Linked DNA regions of Homo sapiens: region 2 is linked to region 1. The links come from fine-mapping of genetic effects on gene expression. A gene starts in region 1. The other region holds a variant in brackets. All regions are shown on one strand. Distances are from middle to middle. Region 1 holds the start of MYCBPAP (MYCBP associated protein). Region 2 overlaps MYCBPAP (MYCBP associated protein).

What was found. PIP is the estimated chance that this variant, and not a neighbour inherited with it, causes the effect. A credible set is the group of variants that fine-mapping cannot tell apart.
Region 2: its variant is the best candidate, but not a certain one, in a credible set for the expression of MYCBPAP in testis (GTEx, PIP 0.85).

Annotation. Positions count from the first base shown.
Region 1 is chr17:50,505,913-50,510,294 of GRCh38, forward strand. MYCBPAP (MYCBP associated protein) reads left to right here and starts at 2,527. Exons shown (of 19, transcript NM_032133.6): 1 at 2,527-2,838. The coding sequence starts at 2,763. RefSeq lists a silencer at 2,233-2,522 and enhancers at 2,543-2,602, 2,623-2,752.
Region 2 is chr17:50,527,901-50,532,282 of GRCh38, forward strand. MYCBPAP (MYCBP associated protein) reads left to right here. Exons shown (of 19, transcript NM_032133.6): 16 at 255-370; 17 at 795-940; 18 at 1,118-1,288; 19 at 3,427-3,601. The coding sequence ends at 3,528. Among named protein-coding and RNA genes, the nearest start is that of EPN3, 2.6 kb to the right of the region's middle. The variant G/A (reference allele first, on the strand shown) is at 2,353.

The DNA of each region.
Region 1 (4,382 bases):
AACATTCTTTGCCCAGAGGACATGCTGGGTTGGCCAAGACTTTGTTAGATCTGCAGCACAGTCTGAGGCTCTCCCAGCCCTTTCCTGCTTCCTCTCCCTCACCGGCCTTGCCACTACCCCCTCTCTCCGCAATAAACCTCTTGCGGTCCTATGTTCATCTCAGTGCTTGCTTCCTGGAGGACCCACATGGCACAGCACCTAGCCTGCTGGATCATAAGTGCTCAGTCGCGAAGTAAACGGAACTGGGGATTCTCTAGAGGGTAGAGGGAAGCCAGAGCCTGGGCCTCGGAGAGCAGGAGAGGGGCTGTCCGTGGAGGATGCCTCAGTCATAAGGAGAGCAAGGTCTAGAGCAGTGTGAAGAAGGGGCCATGGCCCTGGAGCAGGACCCAGCAACGGGCAACACACAGGGAACTCAGGGATTCACCAGCACTGCTGGCATCGTCTCTAGCTCCTCCGCTGTCTGGGGCAGCTCTTGCAAACTCAGAAATGTCCCAGGAGACAGGGTTCAAAGAGCCCTGGCCTTGGACTTTAGAAAACCAGGTTCAATTTGTGCTTCCCGCTAGTCAGGTGACATTACACCCTTCTCTCTGGAGCTCAGTTTCTCCGTTTGTAAAATGGGCTTATAATGTGTCCCCTCCCTTCAACCCCAGCATGATTTTGAGAATTGACTGAGAAGATACTACAGTTTATGGAGGGCACCCTGTTTCGTAGTTTAAATGCACACTCAGGCCAGGTGAGGTGGCTCATGCTTGTAATCCCAACACTTTGAGAGGCCAAGGCGGGAGGATCGCTTAAGCCCACGAGTTCAAGACCAGCCTGAACAACATAGCAAGACCCTGTCTCTACAAAAAATTTAATAATTAGCTGGGTGCAGTGGCACATGCCTGTAGTCCCAGCTACTCGGAAGGCTAAGGCAGCAGGATCATTTAAGCTCAGGAGTTTGAAGCTGCAGTGAGCTATGATTGTGCCACTGCACTCCAACCTGGGCAACAGAGTGAGATACTCGCTAAGAAAAAGAAATACATACATATTCATTTAACCCTGGCAGTGGCCTTGTGAGAGCAGCATTATGACCTCCATTTTATGTATGTATATATGTATGTATGGATGTATGAGATGGGGATCTCACTTTGTTGCCCAGGCTGGAGTACAGTGGTGCAATCAGAGCTCACTGCAGCCTGGACCTCCTGGGCTCAAGCAATCTTCCTGCCTTAGCCTCCAGAGTAGCTAAGACTACAGGTGTGGGCCACCAAAGCCAGCTAATTAAAAAAAAATTTTTTTAGGCTAGGCACGGTGGCTCACGCCTGTAATCCTAGCACTTTGGGAGGCCGAGGCGGGCAGATCACGAGGTCAGGAGTTCGAGACCAGCCTGACCAACTGGTGAAACCCCATCTCTACTAAAAATACAAAACTTAGCCAGGCATGGTGGCACTCGTCTGTAATCCCAGCTACTCAGGAGGCTGAGGCAGGAGAATCGCTTGAACCTGGGAGGCAGAGGTTGCAGTGAGCCGAGATGGCACCACTACACTCCAGCTTGGGCACAGAGCAAGACTCCGTCTCAAAAAAAAAAAAAAAAAAATTTTTTTTTTTTTTTAGAATGGAGTCTCCCTACGTTGCTCAGGTCAATTTTGAACTCCTGGCCTCAACCAATCCTCCTGCCTCAGCCTTCTAAAGCACTAGGATTGTAGGCCTGAACCACTGTGCCCAGCAGAGAAAACCGGCTCTCTAGGTCAAGGCATTGGCTCAAGAACACACAGCTAACAAGCCGACATAGCTGGGATTAGAACCCAATTGTCTGGCTCTAGAACCCCTTCACTATTTGAGGTACAATTTACTGCCTGACTACTAGTGCTAAACTTTGGGTTGGGGGCAGGGCCTGAGGCAGCTCCTGCTCTCATACATTCTGAGAGCCAGTTTGACAATAGGCAACTACACAAAAAACCGAAATAATCCCAGAATGCCTCAGGGCTCCAGGGGAAGGCGAAAAAAGCGGGTGCGTTTATAAACTTAAAATAATCAGAGGCAGCATCTCCAAGGACTGTGAGAATGCCCCAAGTCAGGGCAAAAGTTTTGGCTGGTTTGGGAAGTGATGAAAGGCCAAAGTGGCTGCAGCGAGCGTGGACCCGGGAGGTCTCCAGGCGCGTTGGTGCGAGTTGGGGACGGCAGGCAGGGACACCTAAAACCTACGGTACGCCACGAAGGGGTTTCAGCACGTCCTGAAAGGCCCGATCCCCCCCCAGAACCGCTGTGAGGGGGGCAGAGGGAGGTCCCTCGACAGGATGTGGCCTTAGTCGAGGAAGGCGGGAAGCAGGGGCTGGCACCCCCGACGCCCCACCCGCCCCCCGTGGCCTAGCAGCAGGGCGGGGCGAGGCGGGTCATGCACCCCTACCAGCCAGCCACTCCCACCCAGCCCTCGGCTCCCGCAACTCGCGGGGGTCCTCGCCCGGGTCCCCCGCCCCGCCCCGCCCGGCTGGTGACGTCACGGCGCTCGTCGGCGCCGCCTGTGGCGTCACAGGCCGGGCCCGCAGGGCTTTCTAGGGGTCCGTCGCTCTTGAAGCCGCCGGCGGCGGGCGCGTGCGCGGCCCGATGAAGAAGGAGGTTTCCAAGCCGTCTCCGCCCAAGTTGATCGGTGGATGCGCGCCCCCGCGCGGGGCACCGGTTGCTGTGGACGCAGTGGCGGCCGTTGGCTGGCGGGTGCGGCGCAGCCTCGGTGTCTCTGGGCCGGCGGTGCAGGGCAACGTTTCATGGTGCCGGGCGGCACCATGAAGTCTCTAAAGAAGGATTCCCGCCTCAGAATAACTCCGACCAGATTATTAGAGGCCTCAGAGAATGTCAAAGGTTGGCGCTGGCTGCCTTGGGCGCTCGGGAGAACCCGAGAGGGGAAGCGGTCCCCGGAAAGAGTTCAGGACACGGGGCCTGGAGGATGGGGATGGCACCAGGGATGGAGGAAAGATCACGGGGAAGTGGGGTACTGGGCATAGGACCCTTAGGGATGGGGGGCAAGGCAGGAAGAGCCTACAGCGCACTGGGCCTTGGGGATGGGGACATAGGAAGTGGGAGACTGACAGAGGGGCCTCAGGGACCACTGGCTGGGGAGATGGCCTTGCGCTACCTCTAACCACATCTTAGGGTGGCATGCAGGAGGCAGGATCCCCGGACTGGATGAAGTGCAGAAGAGCCAGGAAAGAGTTTAAGGGTAGAAGGGCCAGGAATTGGGGTCCTTGGGAAGAGGAAAGAATGAAGTGTTGAAACCAGCCACCTTGATGGGATTATTTGGTAGAGGAGGGTCGGGGAGCGGGGCAGGCGTCACTTAGGATTCCTGCTGGAAAAACCCAGAAGAAAGGCCTTGCTTGGCTAGTTCTCTTTTTGACTGCCTTTTCCTACCACGTGCACTTTCCAGCTGGATGACACTTATCCAGCTCCTTTAGCCTGGAAAGAATCGCTAGATATGACTGCTTCCTACCCTCTACAGCTTTCTTCTGGTTGCACCTGGGAGAGCCACAGGGCGTCTGATAGCGGACTGACTTCCATGGACATGTTCTCACTTGCAACCCACCCCCTTTTGATCTTTTTTGGCTGTTTCCATTTATTTATTTTTAAATTTAATTTTTAGCTTTTTTTTTCTGTGTGTGTGTGTGTGTGTGTGTGTGTGTGTGTGTGTGTTTGTAAACAGGGCTCTCGCTGTGTTGCCCCAGCTAGTGTCAAATTCTTGGCCTCAAGCGATCCTCCTGCCTCGGCCTCACAGACTGCTAGGATTCCAGGCATGGACCACTGCGCCCAGCCTATTTTTGTTTACTGAGAGCTGATTTTGTGTGGTACTGTGGCTCACCAGAAGGGTATCGGTATTAACTGTGTGACCCTGGTCCTCAAGAAACTCAGTCTAATGAACACCTGGAGGAGTAACCTGACAAAGGTAGAAATACAAATGCTGTGATGTAGGTGCCCATCGGGCTTAAGGGGGCTCAGAGCACCTGAGCCAGACCAGGGATGGTTGTAGGGGTACGTCTTCTGAAGAAGGTGACATCTATGGCAGACAAGAAAAAAAAGGAGAGGTTTGCTTCTCTAGGTCTAGGAAGCAGCATGAGTTTATGGAACTGTAAATGTGGGAACCAGAAGAGGCTGCACAGGTGGGTAGGTCAGGGGCCAGACCATGAAAGGGCTTTATGTACTAGGTCAGAAAGCCTGGATGTGCTCTTGCAGGCCCTGGGGAGACCCAGCCTCAGAGTTGTGAAAGCTCATTGTGAGGAGAGGGGACCCTCAGAAAACTAACAGGAGCTTAGTCGCTTTTCAGTATGGCTTTATGTTTCTTCACGTATAAAAGTCCAACGTTGAGCCGGGCATGGTGGTGCACATCTGCAGTCTCAGCTGCTCAGGAGGCTGTG
Region 2 (4,382 bases), 22 kb after region 1:
TAGGACTGAATTCATGCAGGCCTCCTAACCCTAGTCCTGGGCCATTTTTTTCTTGGTTGCCACCCAAGGCAAGCCAGAACCCCCTCCAAGCACTTGCCCTGGCGGGGAACAGTGAGGATGCTGGCTGTTCAGGGGTGTGGCATTTCCACAGCAGCTCGTGGCACCAGGGTCTTTGAAGGGAGGGACCCAAGCCTCTGCAGGTTCAAGGACAAATGAGGAGTGATGGCATTTCTCCACTGTGTCTTGCCCTCTAGTTTGCAGCTGTGGCGAGATGTGATTGACAGCCTGGTGGGCCATTCCATGTGGCTGAGGTCTGTGCTGGGCCTGCCTGAGAAGGAGACCATCTATTTGAATGTGCCTGAAGAGCAAGGTCAGATCTTGTGCAACCAACCACACCTCTGCATAGCCCTCCTCATCTCTCTGAATGGACAAGCAGCAGTGCCTGGGCCAGTCATACTCCTTTGGTGGAAGCTCTGCTAGGTTGAGCCCATGGAGTAGGCCCCTTACCCCTTTCTGTCCGCTGCCAGGATGTGGTACCCAGAAGCTACCTTAGTGACCACCTTGGTTTAGTAATCCCAGCAAAGTTAAATGACTTATCCATGGCCATTCATGGCATGGCAGAGCTGGGACCAGAACATAGGCACCACAGTCCTGTTTCATGAAGCCACGCGCCTACCAGGGCTCAAGGCTATTGCCCTTTGCTTTTCCACCTCCCCTCAAGCCTCCTCACGTACCTGCAGCATCCACTAGGCTGTTGGGGGCCTGCCATATTTTCTTCCACCCACCTCCCTTAGATCAAAAATCACCTCCTATCATGGAAGTGAAGGTACCTGTGGGGAAAGCTGGGAAGGAGGAGCGGAAAGGAGCAGCCCAGGAAAAGAAGCAACTGGGGATCAAAGACAAAGAAGACAAGAAAGGAGCCAAGCTGCTCGGGAAAGAGGCATGCTGGGGCGTGGTCTGGGCCAGGTGGGGCTGGGGAGGGGATTGGAGGGGCTGCGGAGGTGGGGGCTGTGGAGGTGGGCATGTGCCCAGGCTCTCCCAGTGAGCTACTGTTGAGGACATCCTTGGCCTACCTCTGGAGCTCCTGAAGGCTATGTGTGTCTCCCTCCCCCAGCAGGACCGTCCCAACAGCAAGAAGCACAAGGCAAAGGATGACAAGAAAGTCATAAAATCTGCAAGTCAGGACAGGTTTTCTTTGGAAGACCCTACCCCTGACATCATCCTCTCTTCTCAAGAACCCATAGACCCCCTGGTCATGGGGAAATACACCCAGAGCCTGCACAGTGAGGTGAAGGGAAGCGCCCAGCAGCCATTCCCCTGCCTCCCACCTGCCTTATTCATTCCGTTCAGTCTGCAGACAATAAGTGCCCACTCCATCATGGTGGAAGCAGAGCTGCTTCAGGAAGGGCATCCTCGTGTGTGAGACAGGCCTCATGAATAAGGAATGCGCCTAGCATGTTAGGTGATGAGTACGACGGGAGAGAAGATAGACCAGGCAGGGAATGGAGGCACAGAGGCCTCAGTGAGGAGGTGACAACCCACAAAGATTTGAAGGGAGGGGAAGGGTGGCCAAGTAGACGTCCAGTAAAGAGTGCTCCAGGCATGGGGAGCAACTGCCATAGGAGGGAGGGGCCAGAAGGGAGAGGGCAGTAGTGGGGAGCAGGTCATAGGGGTGGGGGATGGTTTGCAGGCTATTGTGAAGACTTGGGATTTTTCGGAGTGAAATGAGAAGTCACGCAAGGTTTTGAATAGAAACGCAATAGGGTCTGATAGGCTTTAGAAGGTGGCTCTGGCCGCCCTTTGGAGAACAGACTCTAGGGGAACAGAGAGGAAGGAAGCCCTTCTCTTTCTTACTCCCCGTTAGGTGCATCCTGGCAGATGCGTTCCTTGGGAGAACACCATGCAGGGTGCATTCCCATCAACTGTAAGAGTTTGAAGGACTAGAGAGACTTCATCCTAATCCGTTCTTAAGTAGCAGGTCCTTAGAAATTCACCCAGGTTTTCCGTTTTGTTTGTTAGTGTTGTTGTTTGTTTTGGAGGGGAGGTCCACAAAGCCATTTTCAATATGTCAGTATGTCTATTGGCGACGTCTTGCCTTCCTCTAATGTGGATAGCTGGGGAGCTGGGATTACATCATGTATTGTGGTCACACTCTGGATCTCATTTGATCAAAAGTTCCATTTGCCACTGGTGACATCACTAAGATATCAGATGGTTGATGGGGTCTAGAAAGTAATTAAAGGGCTCTGAGGACCCATGGGGGTCAACGTCAACCCTTCCATGGCTCTTTGATATTAAGAATCAACTTGCAGACCAGGTGCGGTGGCTCGTGCCTGTAATCCCAGCACTTTG[G/A]GAGGCCAAGGTGGGCAGATTGCCTGAGCTCAGGAGTTCAAGACCAGCCTGGGCAACATGGTAAGATCCCGTTTCTACTAAAAATTCAAAAAATTAGCCAGGCATGGTGACACTCACCTGTAGTCCCAGCTACTTGGGTGGCTGAGGCACAATAATCGCTTGAACCCGGGAAGTGGAGGTTGCAGTGAGCCGAGATCACGCCATTTCACTCCAGCTTGGGTGACAAGAGTGAGACTCTTACCTCCAAAAAAAAAGAATCAACTTGCTGGCCAGTGGCTCACACCTGTAATCCTAGCACGTTGGAAGGCTGAGGCAGGTGGATTGCTTGAGCCCAGGAGTTCGACATCAGCCTAGACAACACAGGGAGACCCCATCTCTGCAGAAAAAAAAAAGAATCAACTTGTCTGGGCTTGTATGATCCAACCCCATTGGAGGGGTCAGTCCCAGAGACCTTTCAGTCTGTGGATACAGGAAGGAAAATTGGCCTCCAGGAGGCCAGAGTAGAACTGGGGCTGAGCCCAGGCCCACCCCAAACGGCTAAATGGGCACCGCTCCATGGGCTCCCTGGAGTTGCCCCTTGAACAACTTAGCTCTAGTATCTCCATATGTCAAAGGTACCAGCGCAGGGCCACCTCCCCAGACTGGTTTGAAAAGTAAAACTGCAAAAGCAGGTGGATTGCTTGAGCCCAGGAGTTCGAGACTAGCCTGGGCAATGTGGTGAAACCCCATCTCTACAAAAAATAGAAAAAAGTAGCCAGGTCTGGTGGTGCACGCCTGTAGTCCCAGCTACTTGGGAGGCTGAGATGGGAGAATCACCTGAGCCAGGGAAGTCAAGGCTGCAGTGAGCCATGATCACACCACTGGACTCCAGCCTGGGTGACAGAGTGAGATCCTGTCAAAAAAAAAAAAAATCTGCAAAACCAAAAATTATTTCACAAGAACTTTGAACTTGTGAAATTCTTTCACAAACAACTGGTTTCTTTCCCCTCTCCAGCTATTCTCTCACAGCATAGTTCATATATAGGTGCTTCCCACAGAGTAAACTCTGCCTGTGATGTTGTCCCGTTCTTCCAGGTCCGTGGGCTGCTGGACACCCTGGTGACTGACCTGATGGTCCTGGCTGATGAGCTCAGCCCCATAAAGAATGTCGAGGAGGCTTTGCGCCTCTGCAGGTGACTCTCGGGCCCAAGCAACCTTCTGGAAAACGGGTTAATAAATAAATCAATAAAGAACCTTCAAGTTTCTACTACTTCCGTGTGCCTCTGTGTCTTGCATGATGGATCTTGGCTAGGTCAGCTCCTGATCCAGGTCCTCCCATGTTCCACCTGCCCTCAGATCCCCTCCTGCCAGCTGCCAGAGCCCTCCTGCAGGAGGACAGACAGACATAGCTGGGGAAGTGATGTGTGGGATGCCAAGCAGAGGAGCAGATTGGTAGCAAGACAAGGAGTCAGGTGACAGGACAGTGTGTCACCTCTGGTAGTCCCTGCCTCTGGCTTCCTTGGCCCACACTTTCAGGGTCGTGCTTCCTGGAGCCAGGTCTTCCCGAAGTGTCATCACCAAGTATGACAAAGTGTGAGATGAGGAGTAGAACTAGACCCATGGGACCTGGCTCCCTGCCATCTCCCCTCTTCAGCTGGGTCCCAGGGCCCCAATTCAGTCCCTGAAGATCATGCTCACCACACCTCTTCAGCTCTAGAGGCCACATCACCTTGTTATTTCGGGGTCTAGTCTGCCTTATCCCCCTCCTCATCTCAAACTATCTGGCCTTGAGCCATCTTTCTGCCTTAAAAACAGCTGCTGATCTTCATGCTACCTCCCTTGCTCAGGGGAACATGAAACAGGCTAGAAATGGCTCTCAGAAAAAAAGGTATTGTCAGCTCAAACTCAGGCCCCTCATTGTCTTCTGTCAGTCATAACCATTTGGGGCTGGGCTCCCTGTGTGAAGAGCACTCCAGGCTCCCAGAGTTTGAAGAACAACTTTGGTTTTTGGGTGGGTGGGCATCCTTAAGTGGGCCTCAGGCATCCTCCAG